Homo sapiens: one gene and its partners. The protein of the gene in region 1 purifies or fractionates together with the protein of each later gene. This does not show direct contact. Each region holds a gene or a part of one and is shown in the gene's direction. Other genes may lie near its edges. The genes, in order: SLC6A4, SURF4, LEMD3, ATL1 and TRAM1.

Region 1 (4,309 bases):
GTTTATGCCTGAATCATAGGAAGAGAAATCACATTTGTTGGCACTTGGTTTATGGCTATGCCTGGAATGAGCCTTAAAAGCTGTTTTTCTGCCTCTGCACTTAGCCACATGGAGGCAGGAGTGGCGACCCTGTTGGTGCCAGGGTAAGCCTGTGTCTCCCCCTCACCCCATGCCCTTACCCCTGCTGTGTTCCAGGTGTGGATAGATGCAGCCGCTCAGATCTTCTTCTCTCTTGGTCCGGGCTTTGGGGTCCTGCTGGCTTTTGCTAGCTACAACAAGTTCAACAACAACTGCTACCAGTGAGTATCTGGGGTCCCCAAGCAAAGCTTGAAAGTGGCGTGAGTGAAAGTCAGCTAGTGTGGAGGAAGGTGATTGGACCGACGGCCTCGAATCTGGCCAGGCTTAGGCCTTGATACCACTGCCCCTCAGGGGTGCTGCAGGCCCCTGACCAGCTCACCCATGGCCAGAGCACTCATCCAGGCCGTGGCTTCACCTGGGCCACTCAGGCTGAGAGGGGCCCCATGCCCTTCGGTTTTGTCAGCGCTCCTGTATATAAAAATAATAAGAGGCTGGACATGGTGGCTCACGCCTGTAATCCCAGCACTTTGGGAGGCCAAGGCAGGTGGATCACCTGAGGTCAGGAGTTCCAGGCTAACCTGGCCAACATGGCGAAACCCTGTCTGTACTAAAAATACAAAGATTAGCCAGGCATGGTGTTGCACACCTGTAAGCACAGCCACTTGGGAGGCTGAGGCACGAGAAGTTGCAGTGAGCTGAGATCTTGCCACTACACTCCAGCCTGAGTGACAGAGCAAGATTCCAGAAAGAAAGAAAGAGAGAGAGAGAAAGAGAGAGAGAGAAATAAAGAAAGAAAGAAAGAAAGAAAAAAGAAAGAAAGAAAGAAAGAAAGGAAGGAAGGAAAGAAAAAGAAAGAAAGAAGAAAGAAGGAAGGAAAGAAAGAAAGAAAGAAAGAGAGAGACGGGGTGCGGTGGCTCCCACCTGTAATCTCAACACTTTGGGAGGCCGAGGCGGGTGGATCACGAGGTCAGGAGATCGATACCATCCTGGCTAACACGGTGAAACCCCATCTCTACTAAAAATACAAACAAATTAGCCGGGCGTGGTGGCGGGCGCCTGTAGTCCCAGCTACTCAGGAGGCTGAGACAGGAGAATGGCGTGAACCCAGGAGGTGGAGTTTGCGGTGAGCCGAGATTGTGCCACTGCACTCCAGCCTGGGCGACAGAGTGAGATTCCATCAAAAAAAAAAAAAAAAAAGAAAGAAAGAAAGAGAAATTGCAAAGCAAGTTTACAAAAAGCTGCAACATACAATTAAGTAGTTAGGTTTAACTAGTCAATGTGTTTAACAATAAAAATTGTAATGTGATTATTTGTATTATGTATAAACAAAAAGTATGATGATCACATTATTTTGACTAACACAAAATACCATAATTTTTCTTTTCTTTTCTTTTTTTTTTTTTTTTTTTGAGACGGAGTTTCGCTCTTGTTGTCCAGGCTGGAGTGCAATGGCGCAATCTCAGCTCACCACAACCTCTGCCTCCCGGGTTCAAGCGATTCTCCTGCCTCAGCCTCCCGAGTAGCTGGGATGACAGGCATGCGCCACCACGACTGGCTAAATTTGTATTTTTAGTAGAGATGGGGTTTCTCCATGTTGGTCAGGCTGGTCTCCAACTCCCGACCTCAGGTGATCCACCTGCCTCAGCCTCCCAAAGTGCTGGGATTACAGGCGTGAGCCACTGTGCCCAGCCAAAATGCCATAATTTTTGCAACAAAATCCTATTTCAGAAATTTTAACAGAACAGGAAATGTTACACCAATTATGGTTTTAAATATCACCCACTGGGCCAGGTGCAGTTGCTCAAACCTGTAATCTTAGCCCTTTGGGAGGCTGAGGCAGGAGGATCACTTGAGCCTAAGAGTTTGAGTCCAGCCTGGGCAACATGGTGAGATCCCATCTCTACAAAAAATTTAAAAATTAGCTGAGTGTGGTGGTGCATGCCTATGGTCCCAGCTCTTCAGGAGGCTGAAGCAGGAGGATTGCTTGAGCCCGGGAGGTTAAGGCTGCAGTGAGCTGTGTTCATGCCACTGCACTTCAGCCTGTGCAACAGAGGGAGACCCTATCTCAAAAATAAATAAATAAATAAATAAATAAATGTCACCCATCATCTTTAGACTTAATTTTAATTGATCACAGATGGCAGCATCCATCAATCTCTTTGTGCTATGCATAAGATAATTGTAAAACTGATTTTTTTAAAGGTGGGAGGGAGATTCACATGTACCCTAAGCAATGTGGCCTTGCACTGGGACACCACCCTGCAGTTGTATGATGAGGCTGTCATTTAAAAGTGTGAGATCAGGAGTTTGAGACCAGCCTGGCCAACATGGGGAAACCCCATCTCTACTAAAAATACAAAAATTAGCCAGGCGTGGTCGTGGGCGCCTGTAATCCCAGCTACTTGGGAGGCGGAAGCAGGAGAATCACCTGAACCCGGGAGGCAGAGGGTACAGTGAGCTGAGATCAAGCCACTGCACTCCAGCCTGGGCAATAGAGCAAGGCTCTGTCTCAAAAAAAAAAAAAAAAAAGAAAAAAAAATGAGGGTATCTCTCTGGCTGGCAGTCTGTGACTTAGTTTGAAGATAAAGCCTAAATCTGAGGATCTCACAAATGTGAGGCTCAGGCCCTGTCCTGGCCCCCACTCCAACCTGGGCCCTGCTCCAGAACAAGGCTGGTTTGAAATGGAGAGGTCTGTGCTAGCAGGATTGCCTTTTAAAGCACCCCTGACTGCTCTTCTCCCTCCACCATGTGTGGTGGTCATGGCAGTCAGAGCTTCAGGCCTCGGCAGCTGGGTTCTGGGAGAAGGCGAAGGGACTCCGGGACAGGCTTGAGGTTCCTTGAGTTCAGCCTGCTTGTCCTTGCTGTGGCCGCCCTGTCTAAGGCAGGGCAGGCACACGGACAGATGCTCCTTAGACCCCTGATCTTGGAACTGTCTCAGGCGGCCCCTTGGGTTTTCCCCTCCAGAGATGCCCTGGTGACCAGCGTGGTGAACTGCATGACGAGCTTCGTTTCGGGATTTGTCATCTTCACAGTGCTCGGTTACATGGCTGAGATGAGGAATGAAGATGTGTCTGAGGTGGCCAAAGACGCAGGTAGGACCTCGGGTTCTATGCAGGTCCCTTGCTCCTACTGAGTTGCTTTGCTTTGAATCTTTGTAAAGATCTAACTTTTGATTTATTTCTAAATGTTCCTGAAATTTTCCAAAGAAGGCTGGGCATGGTGGAGTTCAAGACCAGCCTGGGCAACATAGTGAGACCCTGCCTCTATAAAAAAATAAATGAGCTGGGCATGGTAGTGCACACCTATAGTCCCAGCTACTCAGGAGGCTGAGGTGGGAAGATTGCTTGAGCCTGGGAGGTCAAGGCTACAGTGAGCCATGATCACACCACTGTACTTCAGCCTGGGTGACAGAATAAGACCCTGTTTCCAAAACATTTTTTATTCAAAGATTTGAGAGAAGCTCGATGCCTTAGAGATCTTTCCATGTGTTCAGGCCATGCAGGGACAGGGCAACTCCCTTGGCACCCAGTTCTGGGGCCTCCAAAATCTATGGGCTTGAAATGATGACTCTGATGATGGCTTTAAAACCAGTGGGTTTGCTTCCTGTGATGGTCTTGTGATGGCTCAAAGTCTAGTAAGCAAATATCATTTATCCTTAGAACTGCCCCTTGCAGAAAAAGAAAATCTAGCCAATATGACCACTCTATTTTACCGTGAAGTTTTTGTGGAAAAAGAAAAGAGCAACAGAGGGAGAAAAAACAGATGATGGCATCTAGTGGGCGAGGTCCCAGGGCCTTCTTGTTACAAGCATGTTAGCATGCTTGTATCTTTGGCCTGATTCGGTGCTTTGACCAACCCCATACCCCAAACGAGGGCACCCCTAGCTAACCCATGAGAGGCTGAAGACATGTCCCTCACACTTTCAAAAGGGACTTTAAAATAGAAAGAGGTCTTTATTCCAAAGCCTCTGTGACTCTACGGAAATCAATTTAACATTTCCTACTGTTCTGAAGCTGAAGACATCAGAGGGGGCTAACTGTCATGGACTTTAGAAATATCAATCCTGGTCCTGAGAAATCCCATGGAATTGTTATATGGTGGAAACTCTTATTCTCATGTGCAGCTTTGCCAGTCTCTGGGTCTTGGATCTGTTACCCACCCCCAGGGTTAATGGAGGGCACACAGTTTTCAAGATGGAAGCCCCACCCTTCCTGCCTCCCAGGAACTGGGG
Region 2 (4,309 bases), on another chromosome or scaffold:
GTGAGTGGCTCACAGCTCTCATTTTAGAAGCAAGTCAGAACACCTCTGGTGTCTGTCTTGGGTATGGATTGCAGTCTACCTCTCTGCTGCTGTTGGGGTCCACGCCCCACACCCACACCCTGCCCTGGGAGTCCCACCACGGCTCCGTCTCATCTCAGAGGTCTGGACAGCCTCCTGTTGAGCTCTTCCTTCCCAGTGGTTGCTTTTCCCCAGGTTCAGATGAGATAAAGGCTTGTGTCCTTGCTGGGGCTTCCCAGCTGGGCCACGATGTGAGGCCATTCCTTGAGAGCAGTGGCACATCGTGTGCCACGGTGGTGTGCTTTCTCTCTTCCATGGAATATGGGTGATTACACTGTTGCTGGGCATTTAGAGAGCAACGGGGCCATGAGGCAGAACCTGGGGAGGGTGTGTGGCGTCACCTTTCCCACCACCCAGTGTGATGCAGGTTGCGTCACACTGTGCACATGGGCATCTTGTGCTGGTTCTCTGCATTGGCCCTAAAATTCACAGGGGAGTATTTGGGGCCTTTTTAAAAATAAAAAGTGAAACAAGGTCTTCCTCCTAGTAAAGTTGGAAAGCATCTTACCAACCATTAGTTCAGGTGGCCTCACTCTACTGCAGGATAGTAGAGACACTCTCAAAAAAGTAACTGGGCGTGTCCAGGTCACACGGTGTGCTGGCTGGATGGTACCAGGGCAGGATGAGATCACAGGGCCTCAGAACCTCCACCTGCACTTCATCTCCCAAACCCACTTGGTGATTCTCTGGGTATCTGTCGGTCACTGTGATTTCTCCCATCACTTCCGTGGAGTCAAAGGCTGAGTAAATGTGTGCAGAACTGACACTGCAGGGCGCAGTGGGTTTGGGGAGAATGGCCACCTGGCTTTGTAATCTCTGCCTCCGTTCTCTGCCACATGGGAGCCAATCTGCAGTGCTGACCTAGTCAGGGCCCCACCTGACAGGCTGGAGGGTGACCTGAACACCCAGGGGCGTGGTAACTGAGATGGGCAGCTTCAGCAGTGTCTAGGACTTTGAAGCAACTTTTAAAAATGCTGAAAAATAAGAAACACGCATATCTTCCTTTGTTCCAACAGTAGGTTTAGTCAGCCCTAGGAGGCCTGTGCAGCTGACGTTCGCTCGCCTCCCGTGGGGGTCAGCCTCTCGGGTGCTCTTTAGACTCTGGCTTCCCAACATGCGTTGGTGGATGGGTCCCCTGATCTTTCTCCGAAGGACTTGCTGTGTTACAGTATTTCTTTCACTTTATATCTCAGTTTTGCATGGGTGATAAGAGAAAAGTGCATGGGGTGAACCTGCGTGACATTTGTACCTGGCATCCGATAGTGCATGTTGGCTACCTAACCCAGCCGTCATAAATGACCTGACTCACAGCACAGCAGGAAGTCATAAATGTTTTCTTTCCCTTTGACATTTGACAGTGATTTCACACACTTGCGTTTCATTGCTGTTGAAACAGCTGTCCATCCCATTTGTTAGTGTGTTTTAATTTGCTCGAGATTATGCAGGCTTTGACAAAATCCCAGCGCTTTCTAGCCATTAGCGGTACCAGCTTCATGCTGCGCTGACGGTTGCTGCACACACAGTCCCCACGTCAGATCCTGAGCTTGCAGGGGAGAGCTCCGTCGGGCTGGGAAGCGCCAGCCCTGGTTTGCAACAGCACACATGCGCTGTCCAGAGCCTGGGGCCTCCTCCTGCTGCTCTGGAGATTTTCGGATAACTGTAAACGTGATCTTACTATTCAGTCAACCATGTGGCCCTCTAGGTGTGGCACCCTGGCTGTCACCTAAGCCAACCCTTGTTCTGTCAGGGTACTCTGGGCGTCACTGGGCAGGCTGGGAGGTCCAGGCCCTTGGCACCTCAGCCATGTGTGACCTGCAGGCTGGGGTCAAGTCTTGGCATTGCACCATCAGGTCTGCGAAGCCTAGGGGAACCCCTTCCCGCTGGGTTTAATATAGCCATTTGTAAGGTGAGGGGTTGGACCAGAGCAGCGGAGATGCCTGGCAAAGTGCAGCGGTGCCTCAGGAGGGAGGCTGCTGCTGGCATGTCGTGGGCAGACATGTCGTGCGTCATAGCCTGCAGCACCCAGGATGACCCACGGCAAAGAGTGGCCTGGCCTCAGATGCCAGTAGTGCTGAGGTGCAGAAACGTTGGATAGATGACCTCTAAGTGCCTTTTCAGATGTCATTCTGTGATTCCAACTTGTAAATGCCTTTGACCGAAAAGAGCAGCTCTGTGTCTTGTGGCAGTGCCACCTTGGAAGACTGTAGTTGCCTGCCGAGGCACTGGGGGAAATCACGGTAGCAGAGTGTTAGGGCTGCTGCCCTATAGGATCTGCCCCAGAGGGCCTAACGTCAAGTCATGCATCTCCGGGACTGATCCTTGGATTGTTGCATGTGTCCAGACTCACAGGGTAGCGCTCAGGAGCAAGCACTGAGAGCCCCCTAGTCTGCCCTGGGAAGGCACCGGGGCTGACAAGAGCTCTTGCCTTCCACAGCGTCTGTTCCTCACACACCCCGCCCAAGGACGTGCCTGGCAGCGGCCTGGTGCTCCCCGCCGCAGCCACCTCACCCTTGGGTTTCTGTGGCCCTGCAGTTCCTCCGTGTCACAAAGCAGTACCTGCCCCACGTGGCGCGCCTCTGTCTGATCAGCACCTTCCTGGAGGACGGCATCCGTATGTGGTTCCAGTGGAGCGAGCAGCGCGACTACATCGACACCACCTGGAACTGCGGCTACCTGCTGGCCTCGTCCTTCGTCTTCCTCAACTTGCTGGGACAGCTGAGTGAGTGGCTCTGCGGGTGGTCAGGATTCACTGGGCGTCTTGTTCCATGATCGTTAGCAGTTGGGAGGCTGTGTGTGAACTCGGGGGTCTCCTGGACTGCTGTCCCCCCTCCATTCCCCTCTTCTCCAGCTCAGCTGTGCCAGGCCAGGAGTCCGGTTCTGCAAGCCTTGGTGGGGACGCTTAGTCTCTAGCCCTGAGCTCACTGCTTTAGAGCTTGCTAAGGAAATAGGACATGGTCCCTGTCAGGGACCCAAAGCAGGAGATGCTGGAGTCTGGCTGGCAGTCCACAGTAGAGCAGTTAATTGCCTACCTCAGGTGGGTGGCTGACTTGGGAGCTGATTGTGGGAAACAGCCCATTCTTTATGACGGCAAGGGCTCCACTTTCTGGTGTTTGTGATAAGTCTAGTCAGCTTACCATGTGTGGTCCTTGCCTATCATTAATTCTTCCAGAAGTTGTCTTTTGCTTGGGTAGGTGGTTTGGCTGCCTCTGGACCTAAGGGCCAGGTGAGGTAGCAGTGTATCAAGACAGTGCTCCCCGCCGGCACCCACCCTCAGGCCCCCTAACCCTTGTCCTTCTCTCCAGCTGGCTGCGTCCTGGTGTTGAGCAGGAACTTCGTGCAGTACGCCTGCTTCGGGCTCTTTGGAATCATAGCTCTGCAGGTACACGGGCCGCGTGGTCGGGGCTCCCTTCTCTTTGCTCTGGTGGAGCAGAGCTTCTGAAAAGACATCCTTGAGGGTTCAGTGTCACTCCCCCTTCAGCCCCCTGCATGTCTCTGACTGCCTGGAGCTCCTTTCTCTTCTGGGGAAGTCGTGAGCCCAAGCAGGGCTGTAGAGGCAGGTCATTCGGTACTGGGCCATCTTTTGTCCCATTTCTATGATTACCGTGACAAGGGAAGTCTCGAGCTTGGCTGCAGCCAGGATGCTGTCTTGTTATCACGTTGCTTCATAAAGAAGAATACTTGGTTATTCAGAATGAAATGCTGGGAACAGAATATCTGAATCCACATCAGTGGTCTCAGAATCACTTTGTTCTCTGGAACATCATAGCACATTTCTTGAGAAATACAGAACCACATTTTTGAGCTTAGATCTGTCCTCGGTCTCCTACAATGGTTTTGTGTGTTTTAGACTCCAGCTGACATTGGAGAGACGGCCTAATGTATTATGAAGTCTGTGGAAATGCCTTTGGAAAGGCTGAGACTCAAGTATCTCTCTCTTCTTTCCCCTCAGACGATTGCCTACAGCATTTTATGGGACTTGAAGTTTTTGATGAGGTATGTGCATTCTGGTTGGTTTTAGTATACGCTCCTTCTACAGGTTGAGCATTGCAAATCCAAAGTCTGAAATGCTCCAAAATGGGAAAAATCTTGGGCACCAACATGACGCTCAAAGGAAGTGCTCATTGGAGCATTTCAGGTTTTGGATTTTCAGATTTGGGATGCTCAGCCAATAAGTATATAATGCAAATATACCAAAATCTGAAACACTTTGGGTCCTAAGCATTTCAGGTTA
Region 3 (4,309 bases), on another chromosome or scaffold:
TCAGGCTGGAGTGAAGTAGGGTGATCACAGCTCACTGCAGCTTCAAATTTATGGAGTCAAGCTGTCTTCTCGCCTCTGCTTCCCGAATAATTGGGACAACAGATGCATACTACCACACCTGGTTATGTTATAACAGTTTTTAAGGCATGCACACCCCTTGCTAAAGATAGGATTAGTTATACTCTGAAAATGCACATACTTTAATTCATTAATAAATTCAAACTTATTTGAACCCTTAAATGATTAGCTTTAAGAATAGATGTGTAAGTTAAGTTAGCACAATGAATATGCTGAATTTTTTCCCTTTTAGGAATAATACATATTTCTGGAGGGCGTCTTGTGTGCCAAGATCTGTGGATAGGCATCAGTGTGACATAGTTCCTATACCAGCTTACAGTTTAGTTGGGAATATAAGAGGAAGATAAGTTCTTGTTTGGACTGAAATGCATTTAAAAGTTGTGGTTAATGTAATGGTAGTTGTTTGTTTATATTCTTACTGGAATTTCTTTGTTTATATTCTTACTGGAATTTCTTCTAGAAATTATAAATAATATTGTTCATGTTCTTTCTTTACTGATTATAATAATATAACCTGTAATTGTATAATGTATAAAATATTTGAATTAATTATGTTTGTTTTCTTCTGTTTAAGAGAGTACTGATTCAAAATTAATAATATGCTAATCTTTCCAGGAGATCATGAATGTGGCAGTTCTAGTCAAAGAACGCTTTCTGTTCAAGAGGCAGCTGCGTATTTAAAAGTAAGCAATGAAATTAGAATTTTAATAGCTATATTTTAAAAAATTATATAAATCATTGCTACTTGTAAGAATCATATGTTTGATTATTTTAATTGTACTGTTAAAAGCTTGGGCCTGCTGTTTGGTATAATATGAGCAGTTATGAGAAAGTAAAATTGTTCAACTTTTTTTTTTTTTTTTTTTTTGTGAGACACAGTTTCGCTCTTGTTCCCCAGGCTGGAGTGCAATGGCTGATCTCGACTCACTGCAACGTTCGCAACCGGGGTTCAAGCGATTCTCCTGCCTCAGCCTCGCGAGTAGCTGGAATTACAGGCACCCACCACCTCGCCCAGCTAATGTTTTTTGTATTTTTAGTAGAGATGGAGTTTCACTATGTTGGCCAGGCTGGTCTCAAACTCCTGGCCTCAAGTGATCTGCATGCCTTGGCCTCCCAAAGTGCTGGGATTATAGGCGTGAGCCACCTGTTCAATTTTTTTTAGTTTGTTTTAGAACATTCTCTATGAGAGAATGCATATTAATTTGGAAAGGGTACAAAGAAACATTGGTCATAGGGAAATTGAGATAGGTGAGTAGTAGCATGTAAGAGAGCAGGTAAATATCTAACCATTTATTTAAAATCTTCTGTCCCACATCAGTTTCTTCTCCAAATACTAAGAGAACTTGCTGTTGAATTTTCTAAACTACTGTAAATAATTTCTGGAAAATCTTAATGAAAGGTAGTAAAAGATTAAAGATGGATAAATGTCATTCTGATTTCTCAGAAGTGGAAAGTGGCATTTGAAAACCATACAGGAAAGCTTGTTGTCGGTCCAGTTCCATAAAGATAATTTCATAAAGATCTGAGTTCTTGCAAATGGAAACGTTGATCCCTGGAAGGTGGCTGGCATTTGAACGTGGACAAGTCATGCCATACAAATTTCATGCCTCCCATCCCCTTGTTAAAATTGTGGTAAAAAATATATAACGTGAAATCTGTTAACATATTTTTAAGTATACCGTACAACTATATGTGCATTCTTATACAGCAAATCTCTAGAACTTCTTCATCTTGTATGACTGAAACTCTATAGCCATTGCACAGCAGGCCCCCGTTTTCCTCTGCTCCATATCCCTGGCAACCACCATTTTACTTTCTTCCTCCATCAGTGTGATTAACAGATACCTCATATAAGTTGAATCCTGCAATTTTTGTCCTGTGACTGGCTTATTTCACCTAGCATAATATCTTCAAGTTTCATCCATATTGTAACATGACAGTACTTCCTTCATTTTTTAAGGCTGAGTAGAATTTCATTGTATGTATACATATATTTTCTTTATCCAGTCATGTTGATGGGCTTTTAGATTGTTTCCACCTCTTGGCTATTGTGAATAATTCATCAATGAACATGGCAATGCAAGTACTTCTTTGAGACTCTACTTTTAATTCTGTTAGACAAATACCTAGAAGTGGGATTGATAGATAATATGGTAGTTCAACTTTTTATTTTTTGAGGAACCTCCATACTGTTTTCATATTGACTGTACCATTTTACATTCTTTCCAATAGTATAGTAGGATTCCAGTTTCTGCCTATCCTTAACACTTATTTGCCTTATAGCTCACTGTGTTTTTATTTGTGTTTCCCTGATGATTACTGATGTTGAGCATCTTTTCATATACCATTTATATACATATACATCTGTGTGTATATATAGCATGTATACAGCATATATATAATACCTTATCTGTTGGCCATTTGTATATCTTCTTTGGAGAAGTGCTATTCAAGTTCTTTGCTGATTTTTAAGTTGGGTTATTTATTTTGTTATTGAATTGTGGGGGTTTCTTATGCATTTTGCATATTAACCCCTTGTCAGATATATGGTTTGCAAATATTTTCTCCCATTCTGTAGGTTACTTTTTCACTGTATTCACTGTTTTTTTTTACTGCACATATGCTTTTTAGTTTGATGTAGTCCCACTTTTCTGTTTTTGCTTTTGTTGCCTATGCTTTTGGTGTCATGTCCAAGAAATTATTGCCCATATCAACGTCAAGAAGCTTTTCTTCTATGTTTTCTTCAAGAAGTTATATAGTTTCAGGTCTTACATTTAAGTCTTTAATCCATTTGGAGTTGATTTTTGTGTACGGTATAAGATAAAGGTCCAGTTTGATTCTGTTGCATGTGGAAATCCAGTTTTCCTAGCACCATTTATTGAAGAGATTGTCATTTCTCCATTGTGTAGTCTGGCACCCTTGTAGAAGATTGTTGGATCATACATCAGTGGCTTTATTTCTGGTTCTCTATTTTGTTCCACTGGTCCATTTATGTCTATTATTATGCTAGTACTATACTGTTTTGATTACTATAGTTTTGTCATATGTTTTAAAGTCAGTGTGAGGCCTTTGTGGTTCCATATGGATATTAGGATTATGTCTTCTATTTCTGCAAAAAATGCTATTGGGATTTTGTATTGCTGTATTGCCTTCGGTGGTATAGTAATTTGAGTAATATTAAGTCTTCCAATTCACGAACATGAGATGTCTTTCTATTTATTTGTGTCTTTTATTTCATTCAGCTTTTTTTTTTTTTTTTGTAGTTTTCAGTGTATAAGTCTTTCACCTCCCTGGTTAAGTTTATTCCTAAGTATCTAAATCTTTCTAATGCTATTATAAATGGGATTATTTTCTTAACCTCCTTTTCAGATTGTTGTTAGTGTATAGAAATGTAACTGATTTTTGTATATTGATTTTATATCTTCCAACTTAGCTGAATTTGTTTATTCTAACAAGATTCTTTTTAGTAGAGATAGGGGCCTTGCTATGTTGCCCAGGCTGGTCTCAAACTCCTGGGCTCAAGTTATCCTCCTGCCTTGGCCTCCTAAAGCACGGATTACAAGCATGAGCCACCACACCCAGCCAAATAACAAGATTTTTTTGGTGAAATCTTTAGGGCTTTCTATGTATAAGATTATGTCACTTGCTAAGAGAGATAAATTTACTTCTTTCTGATTTGGATGTTTTTTATTTCTTTTTCTTATCTAATTGCTTTGGCTAGGATGTCTAGTGCTATGAGAGATAGAGATGGGAAAAATAGCCACCCTGGCCTTCTTCCTGATCTTAGAGGAAAATCTCTCTTTTTTTTTTTTTTTTTTCCTTGAGACAGAGTCTCACTCTGTCGCCCAGGCTGGAGTGCAGTGGTGTGATCTCTGCTCAATACAACCTCCACCTCCTGGGCTCAAGCGATTCACATGTCTCAGCTTCCTGAGTAGATGGGATTACAGGTGTGTGCCACCACACCTGGCTAATTTTTTTGTATTGTTAGTAGAGATGGGGTTTCACCATGTTGGCCAGGCTGGTCTCGAACTCCTGACCTCACGTGATCCACCCACCTCGGCCTCCCAAAGTGCTGGGATTATAAGTGTGAGCCACCATGCCTGGCCAGGAAAATCTTTCAGTTTGTCACCATTGAGTATGATATTAGCTAAGGGTTTCCATGTATGGCCTTTAATATGTTGAGATAATTTCCTTCTATTCCTCTTTATTGAATGGTTTTATCATGAAAGGA
Region 4 (4,823 bases), on another chromosome or scaffold:
TGAAAGGGATTTTCAGGCTGGAATGTAAGCTGAGAATGATAGTAAAGGAATATAAGAAGAAAAGCAGACCACACTTCTCTTTTGTTCTATGAACTTGGTTTATAGGTATAAGGATGAGATAATGTCTGTCTTCCTATGTTGTTTCATTAATGTCATTTCAACTCTGTTGAGCACAGACTTCTTTAAAACCATGTTGTAAACTTGGTTACAGTGTTCACGACTCTGCAGTCACTAGAACCAGTAACTGAAATATAATGCATAAGATTTGGCAGTGGTGGGGGAGTTTGTTTTCAGATATGTTGATGTTCAAATGTCAGTAGGAAAACAACGTGAGGATAACCTTAGGCAGTTATAAACACACCTCTGGTATAATGTCCTCTCTTCTAGAGGGCAGAAGACTACAAGTATAGATTTGGGAATCATCAGCATGGAGGTCCTGTCTGAAGCCATCATAGTAAATTACATTGAGAGAGTGTAGCGTGAGGAGTTGCTTACCATGAGGAATTAGCAGAGATCATGGATCTGGTAATTAAGAGGCTGGCAGTGATCTCCTAAGAACCGATCAGTACAGAGTGTGAGTAACAACCAAATGGCAGAAGGAAACTGTAAGGGACGGCATGATGGTATCTTGAGGTTGAGGTAGTATAAAGGGACAGTGTTTCCAGGTTACTGAAAACAACTAAGTTTGTAGCAGAGAGAAAGCAGTGAAAAGGGAAAGATTGAAAGTATTTTTATTTTTTTTCTTTTCCTTTCAAAATTGTCTGCAACCTTTATGGCTGCCAGGGCCCACCCATACCCAGACTATGTAGTATGATTTCAGCTCAAATAATTGCTATTGGACTATAGGTCTGGACCTTATCTTTGCAAATCTAGTGGGAAATTTTACCCAGTGGATATTGAGTTACAGATCGTAATGAATCTACAGCTTTCATTTATCTTGATCTTCTTGATATAAATTTTGCTATTCTAATTTTAAGACAAACTACTCAGTATACATATACAAAAATGCATGATACCCTCTTTACTAACATGACCTTGCTTTTAAAATGGAAAAAAAAATGGGTGCCTCGTAGATAAATGCACATTATTTTAGCTACTTTGGCTATATAAATGTTGCCAGCTTGTTTGTACTAATGTATAACCGTGCTTGAAACAGGTATTTGAACATCCAGAATCATGCAGTATATCGGTTTGTGTATTTCTGATAACGCTGTTAAATTCTTTGAGAGTGTGTTCGAGGGGGGTGCTGTTTATTTGTTTGTGTTTTCCGTTGAAAATGTTGCGGTACGTGGTCTATCACTGTCTTCACGGTCTGGGGGTGGACTGAGGTAGGGAGGGTGTGACGCTGGTATCTGTGTGAACTCGGGCTTGTGATGCTGAGCTTGGTTCATCTGCTTTCTCCTCCCTTTTCCTCCCCACTCCTTCCCACCAGCGCCACAGCAACATCCTCAGAGTCTGAGCGAACTGCGCCCAGCGCGGGCACGGAGCCTCCCACCGCCAGCAACCTGCGGCCCCGGAGAAGGCAGCGAGCGCAGTGACAGCGCCTCACCGCCACCAGCTCCTGGACCACCATGGCCAAGAACCGCAGGGACAGAAACAGTTGGGGTGAGTAGCAAATGAGAACTTCTGCAGCCTGCACGGGGTCTTCTGGCCCTCCACTTTCTGCTTCTGTGGAGACAGGGAGGGCCAAGGGCTGCTAGGTGCCTGCGTCCACGGCTGGGAGACGGGCCGTAGCCGAGCCGCTCCCTGTTTGGGCGGAGGAACCATGGCCGAGCGGTACCCGCGTCACCGAATCGCGCTGTCGGGGTGAGGGCTGCAGCTTCGCGCAGGCCGGGCCTCCAGCTCCTTCTTCCCCACCCCCCTCCCGCCTCCTCCCAGCATTTGGACAGCACCCACCAGGCGCCTCCGGGGACTTGTGGGTTCCGCCTTAGCGATCGGTTGGGAGGAAGGCTATGGGGGTGGGCAGGGGGCTGTTGTTACTCGGCCCCAGAGGGGCGAGGGGTCGGGGATCTAGAGCAGGCCAAGCCCCAACCCCCCTCCCCGGGAGCCGCCAACTCGCTGGCTCTGCAGGGCGCGGGCTCCCGGCGGCGGGCGGCGGGCGGCGCGCTGGAACAATGAGGCGGAGCGCGCCGGGTCCCGGACGGACGGTAGCAGACCGAGCAACTGGGAGAAGGGCCACCCTCTTGGGAATTCCTGAGCACTGCAGTACTCCTCTTAATTTGGGGGTTGGGTGGGGGAATTGGGGAAGAAGGAGAGCAAAGTTGTGGTTTCCAGCCTTCTGCCCCACCCCGACGTGGTACCCCATTCAGACCAGCCCCAAGGGTGGCTTTGTTCTTTGATTTTACCTTTTGGAGACATTGGGCTCATGATTCAGCACCAGGCCGAGGGGAGGGGAAAGGAGAGGCGAGACCCAGTATGTTCACACCGCGAGTGGGTGGGCGGTGCTCACGCAGGCGGAGAAGAACGGGCGCAGCGATGCGGAAGAAATCGCGGCCCCGCCCGCCTTGCTGCTCCAGACCTAGTTCTGGACGGTTAGTGTGGGCAGGCTGGGCGTCTTTTTGTCGTAGGTTCCCGATTTCTTGCAGTCACAGTGCTAAACTCACCAGCATCTTAGGAACGAAAGCCCTCTAAGGCATTTATTTTATTATCTGAACCAGAGAATGTCTCAGGCTACTGTGGCTTGGTGGGTAAATAAATATTTTGTTCATCAGCTTGTTATTTAGAAATTGTTATTTGGAAATAACAGTTGTTATTATTTGAAAAGTTCAGAGCTGCTTGATTCTGTTCCACATCTCAGTGAGAGCTCTTCTATAACTGTTTATTTGAGCGAGAGGCACAAATGTAAATTTTAATTGGTTATTTCAGTTTACTTTAATCAAAAGACCGTGTATCTCCTTGCCTCTGATTGTTCTAATGGTCACAGGATACGGTAGACAAGGTTTACATTTGGGAGATTATCCAAGGTTTGTGGTAGGCATGGAGAGTTGGAGCGGGGAGGTCTGTCATGACTTAGCTGAGTTTAAGAGAAAGTGGTTCCATTTTCTGAGATCATGAAACTTCAGTTTTAACAGACCTACCTGACTATTGCAATAAGTTTTATTTCCTTCTTCTGAAATTTAAGTAAGCATTTGCAGTGTATCCCCTTTCCACCCGTTCTCTTGGCCTCTAGAATAGGAATTTATTGAACACACACAATTAGGGTGCGTATATTCAAGTCACTTTTGGTCTCAGTCTCCATGAATTGTTGTCTCCACCCTGTTAACAGAAGCATGTGAAAATGTATTCTGAGGATTAAAATTTTTCTCCTTTATGAAGCTTTGGATCATTATTGCGCAGAATTTCCTTTGGCTATAAACTTTTTTTTTTTTGAGATGGAGTCTTGCTCTGTCGCCTAGGCTGGAGTGCAGTGGTGCCTTCTGGGCTCACTGCAAGCTCCACCTCCCGGGTTCACGCCATTCTCCTGCCTCAACCTCCCGAGCAGCTGGGACTACAGGCGCCTGCCACCGTGCCCGGCTAATTTTTTGTATTTTTAGTAGAGACAGAGTTTCACCATGTTAGCCAGGATGGTTTCGATCTCCTGACCTCGTGATCCGCCCGCCTCGGCCTCCCAAAGTGCTGGGATTACAGGAGCGAGCCACCATTCCCGGCCTTATAAACTTCTTATGTAGTGGGAGTTTTTCCCTCTTGGGAACATGGTTCTCACATCCGGTTTTCATAAAAATCACACAGGGACTTATTAGAAATGCAGACTCTCCCATCTTCCAGCCAGAGCTTTGGAATCAATAGATCTGAAAGAGGGCCTAGAAATCTGCCTTTTAATTAGCATTTTAGGTGATTGGGAAGCAGATGGTCTTTAGGTGTTACTTTGAGAAATACTACCTTAGATTATTTACATTTGATAGAAACATCTCAGATAGTTTACCCAGAAGTCATCAGGAAAGTTTCAACTCAAGTGATGGATTAGGAAAAGAAATACTAGAATCACTATAGTGTTTACTGGAAATTATTATAGAAAAGAAAGAGTGGAATTCTGGACTCTTATCTTGATGTTCTATGGAAATGCTTTACTACTTAGATTTTTCTTTGCTGTTAAGTACATATGACATAAATGACTTAGAAAATGTAGTAGATGGAGTAGGAGATAGAGGTTTTGGCACAGATATTAGCCCTGTCAGTCTTAATTCCATTTTATTACCAGTATCTAATAGAATGCCTAACACAGTAGGCATTTAGTAACAGCAATAGTAGCCAACATCGTTAAGCTAATGTCATATGAAATAGGTGCTGTAATACTCATTTTACATATTAAAAGGTAAAGCTAGTAGATGATTGACCCAGGATTCCTGCTCTGGCAGTTTGAATTCAGATTCCTTTATCTTCTATCTCTTTGTTGAATGGATAATACCTTCTGTATTATATTATAGAACTACAGTTTCAATGCATATTCATCTGCATTATTGCATTTGATCTTCAACCTCTTAAGTATGTGTCTTAGGGCATATCACTATTTTGCAGATGAAAAAACTAACTCAGAGGTGAGTTAAATGATTTGGTGAAAGTCATGTATTTGGTAAGTAAAAGGACTGAAATTAGAATCTGGGTTTTTTTCCTAATTTATTTTCTATAACATGATATTGTGGAATGTTTTCATGGAGAGAATGGGGTGGGGTGTGAAGATAATAGAGAAAACAGATCCTTGTAGTAGACAGAGGTCTCTCATGAGAAAAATCTTATGAGAGCTTAAAAAAGAAGACAGTGAACTGACCTTATCTAGCTAAGTAAGTATTTTTCAGACAAGTTAGAAAGAAAAAGGCATCAAGGTA
Region 5 (4,309 bases), on another chromosome or scaffold:
TATCCTGAAAACAACATAAAATTTGACCTGGCATCTACTGGATACCACCTTGTGCCTCTGTGTTCTTCAGTCCACTGCAATGCAGCTCCTGCTCTCACTACTTAGTTGGAATCACTCAAGCTGTGACCACTGATGACTTCTTAAATTGTCCAGTCTATCGTTCTCTTTCCTCCCACATCTCTTTTGAAACTTTTGACTTTATTAACCACACCTTTTAGAAATGTTTCCCCTTTGGCTTTTGGGACTACAAGCTCTTTTTATTTCTTTCTCTGTCTCTCTAACCATTTTTTCTTAGTTTCAGTGACTTGAAGTTTTGCTTTTTTCCCTGTTCTCTCCATGGGTCTGATGTTGTCCTACTTCTCTACAAATACTGTGCACTCTCCATATATGATTTATGTATTTTCACAGCTTCAGCTATTATCTGTAGAAAGAGACTCCCAAATCTTTATTTAAGCTAGGTTCTCCCTACTGAGTTCTAGACTTAGGTTTTAGCTGCCTTACTGCTCATCTCCCAGAAATCTCAGCTGTAGGCATCAATAAATAACCTTGTACTCTTTCTTCTAGCTTACCAAACCTTATTTTGCCTTATGAGTGCCTCCTGTATCCCACAGTCACTGTCTTAGTTCAGGTCTCATTATCTTTCATGTGGTCTCTTGCAGAAGTTTCATTCTTGGCTGCATGCTCACTCCGGTTTGTACTTTTAACTGATATTTATTCAGCGATATTGATTAATTACCTAATATGTACCAGGCCCCATGCTGGGCTCTGAAATATAGTGATGAGTGGAAACAGGCATGATCCCAGTTCTAATGGAGCTTACTTTCTAATGGGCGAGACAGAAATTATTAATATAATCAACCAGAGTATGCCTTTGAAGGAAAGGAACACAGTTCTCTGAGATAATCTAACAAAGGAAATGACCTACTCTAGGAAGACAGGGAGACTTCCTTGAAAAGGTGTAATGCAACTGAGATCTGATGGGAAATATTTTCCGACCGTATTTTAGATAGAACAGCATGTGCAGAGACCCTGTGGTAGAAGGTGCTGCAGAGGCAGAGAGAGGAGTCAGACCATAGAGTCCTATGGTCACATTCTCCTAGAAAGATGGGAATCTAGTGAAGGATTTTTAGCAGGTAGGGAGGGGGATGTGGTAACATGATGAGAAAATCATTCTAGTTGCAATATGGAGAATGGATCTGAAGGGGCCTGGGATACCACTTAGCAGGTCACAGAGAGCAATCCTTCTAAAAGGCATAAATGAACTTTCCCGTCCTCAACATTCTCCACTTGTGCGAAAGTGAAATCTAAACTACTTAGCTCAAAAAACAGAGTCCTTTCTAGCACTCAATAATGTTTCTAGTCTTTTCTAACGCTTCCTGATGTGCATCCTGTGCCTGGCCTTGTGTTCACTGCTACTTGATCTTGCCACGCTCTGTTTCTTCTATCTGTACTGTCCTCTTCATCCCCCTTTGTGAACCTAGGGAACACCTATTTTCCAGCAAAACACAGCTCCTTCATTTCATTCCACCCCAGAAAAAAAACCAACAAAGCTCATTGTTTATCCCAAGTACCCACAGTGCAAGCTATTGGCACTTATTCTACAGTATTATAACAGTTTATTTACCTGTACTTTTCACACCACGGAGCTCCTTGTCATTAGGGATTATTTTATCCATCTTCATCTCGTCCTTTTTTGTCTAGCACTTTGCCTGGTGCCTGTAAAGATTGGGTAAGCATTCCATTTTTCTGCTCTGACCAGTTTACTTTTACCAGTAGTCAGGTCAGTTAAACAGTTATTGACCACTTAACTCTGCTGGGTGTGTGGGATACTAACACACCCACACCACAGACCCTATATTTGATCTGCTTTTCTCATGCTAACTGTGCTTCTCTTTATTTTATTAATTTACACTTGAAATTTGTCTTAATAGGAACTTTTTATTCATTGTATAGGGCTAGAGTAGAGAATCATCATTTGTCAAATAACTGTTTTCTGGAACTGCAGAAAATGTCTTTTGAAATCTTAAAATTAAGGATGAATTACACAATTTTACCTAAACCGCAGAAGAGTACTCTAGTGAATTACATTAGCTCCTTGGCAATCAGTAATTTCCATTGTGTCTGTCAGGATTCCACAGGAACGAGGAGGCCCTTGGTGCTTCGATTTAGGGACAGATTTTATAATGTTTTTGCCCCGATCTGTTATTTGGGAGAGGGTCACAAATTGACTTGATCTTTGTTTTTCCTTCTTTGTAGATAACGGCAAAAGCTTCTATCATTTTTGTTACTCTTCAGTACAATGTCACCCTCCCAGCAACAGGTAGGTAATTTACGCTAAGAATTTTCTACGTAAATAGAAGTTCAGTTGAACAAACTTGGAAATTTTCATGAATGCTAGGTCCTGCGTTAATTAATCGTCAGAGATCTCATCCATGATGTGACTGAATGTTATTGTGATGATTTTATAATACAAGATCTGATGTTTTTGATTGACTTTACCCTGTATATGTTTTCTGTTTACTATATATTTTTGTGAATGGACTTGAAATTCCATAAAATAATTTTGTTTTGCTTTCTCTGCTTTCTGATTTTTTCCTAAGAAAATTATAAGAAAAGATCTTTTTAAAATTGTTTAAATGTCATTGTTCATTCAAGACTTCTAAAAGCACAATGGCAGATTTAGTTTTTCTGTAAGTTACATTTTGGACCTGTAATAGCAATCAATCCTTCTAAGATTATTTTCACTTTTTCCTGTGCTCTACTTTTAACAATTATTTTGATTCCAGAAAATGTGTTAGTAAGCTCTAGGAATTATCTGGTAATAGCATCCAAACTATTAGGTTTTATTTCAAAAATCTTATTTCTTAATCTATGTAAAAATTAGGTGTTTCTTGGAAGTTGATTGTAATTTAATACAGTGATATAATTAACTAGCATGGGTGAGGGATGGGGTATTTTTTGGTTGAGGCAGTAAACCTGCACAGTTTTTTATTTAGAATGTAAGATAATATAGTATACCACATTTAGTTGGGGTTTTTTGTTGTTGTTGCTGTTATTTATATGTGTGTTTTTAAGAGATGACAGGGTCTTGCCAAATGTGTTACCTAGGCAGGAGTGCTGTGGCGTGATCGTAGCTCACTGCAGCCTCCAGCTTCTGGGCTCAAATGATCCTCCCAGGTCAGCCTCCCAAGTAGGTGGGACTACAAGGGCACACCACCACGCCCAGCTAATTTTTCAATTTACTATAGAGATGGAGTCTCACTATACTACCTAGGTCAGTCTTGAATTTGGGCCTCAAGCAATCCTTGCCTCCCTAAGTGTTGGGATTACAGGGGTGAGCCACTGCATCTAGCCCCTGAGTTGGGTTTTTGTTCAGTTATGTACAGTTTTGTAAATATTTAATTTAGTGATTTAGTTATCAGGTTACTCAAAACTACAATACTGTTTTGAAATTTGAATATGCCAGAGAAGAATAAAGCTCTTTTATGTATATGTTCCCCATAAACATAAAGTTTGAGAATAAGTGTCAGCAATTCACAAGTATTTGATAAAGATTTGTTTTGAAAAATTATAGCAATTGCAAGGATTAAAAACAACTTTAGTAGTTGCCTTTATCTCTGCTGCTTATAGATCAAAACTAAATCAAATACAGGTCAAATCAGCTTTTTCATCAGAATCATAATTTAGTGTGTAGTTAGAAAGTAGAAGTAGAAAGTTTCAAAAGCCCTTTGAAAAAAATAGGTCAGTAGGCTAAGTATAACTTTATCAACCTAATTTATACCCCTGGGATAATATCAGTTTATTGAGTGTGGCCTCCTCTTCCCTGTTTTTTGGTCTTTGGTGGCTGTGACTAACATGTGTCAAGTCTTTGTAAGTAATTTCTAAAGCTTTAGATTTCTAGATAGTTTTGATTTTCATTGCCCCTCTAAGACTCAAGATGTCCAAGACCACGTTATTTATGATGTTAATATAGAACTTTTTTATTAGGTTATTCTTCTTTGTTTCCATAACTATGTTGTACTTAATGCTGTTTTTATAACCTTGTGTATATTTTTGTGTATTTGTGTCCTTTTTGGTCTTCAGAAGAACAAGCTACTGAATCAGTGTCCCTTTATTACTATGGCATCAAAGATTTGGCTACTGTTTTCTTCTACATGCTAGTGGCGATAATTATTCATGCCGTAATTCAAGAGTATATGTTGGATGTAAGTATGCAGTCTTAGAAATCTATACTTTATAAAGTACTAGCTCTCCATAATCTGCTAGTCATATATTAAATATAATTTATAATTTATTCTTAATTACTAAT

What was found.
Region 2: the proteins of SLC6A4 (region 1) and SURF4 purify together in Homo sapiens (affinity purification with mass spectrometry; one large-scale study listed by BioGRID and IntAct). This does not show direct contact.
Region 3: the proteins of SLC6A4 (region 1) and LEMD3 purify together in Homo sapiens (affinity purification with mass spectrometry; one large-scale study listed by BioGRID and IntAct). This does not show direct contact.
Region 4: the proteins of SLC6A4 (region 1) and ATL1 purify together in Homo sapiens (affinity purification with mass spectrometry; one large-scale study listed by BioGRID and IntAct). This does not show direct contact.
Region 5: the proteins of SLC6A4 (region 1) and TRAM1 purify together in Homo sapiens (affinity purification with mass spectrometry; one large-scale study listed by BioGRID and IntAct). This does not show direct contact.

Annotation. Positions count from the first base shown.
Region 1 is NC_000017.11:30,211,601-30,215,909, reverse strand, and holds part of SLC6A4 (sodium-dependent serotonin transporter), read left to right. Parts: intron 1-195; coding exon 196-299; intron 300-3,042; coding exon 3,043-3,170; intron 3,171-4,309.
Region 2 is NC_000009.12:133,365,747-133,370,055, reverse strand, and holds part of SURF4 (surfeit locus protein 4), read left to right. Parts: intron 1-2,512; coding exon of another isoform or gene 2,513-2,610; coding exon 2,611-2,797; intron 2,798-3,380; coding exon 3,381-3,457; intron 3,458-4,027; coding exon 4,028-4,071; intron 4,072-4,309. UniProt on the Homo sapiens protein: Endoplasmic reticulum cargo receptor that mediates the export of lipoproteins by recruiting cargos into COPII vesicles to facilitate their secretion.
Region 3 is NC_000012.12:65,217,859-65,222,167, forward strand, and holds part of LEMD3 (inner nuclear membrane protein Man1), read left to right. Parts: intron 1-693; coding exon 694-761; intron 762-4,309.
Region 4 is NC_000014.9:50,558,695-50,563,517, forward strand, and holds the start of ATL1 (atlastin-1), read left to right. Parts: upstream 1-1,450; 5' UTR 1,451-1,571; coding exon 1,572-1,605; intron 1,606-2,345; exon of another isoform or gene 2,346-2,432; intron 2,433-4,823.
Region 5 is NC_000008.11:70,598,030-70,602,338, reverse strand, and holds part of TRAM1 (translocating chain-associated membrane protein 1), read left to right. Parts: intron 1-2,256; coding exon 2,257-2,320; intron 2,321-4,083; coding exon 4,084-4,205; intron 4,206-4,309. UniProt on the Homo sapiens protein: Involved in the translocation of nascent protein chains into or through the endoplasmic reticulum (ER) membrane by facilitating the proper chain positioning at the SEC61 channel.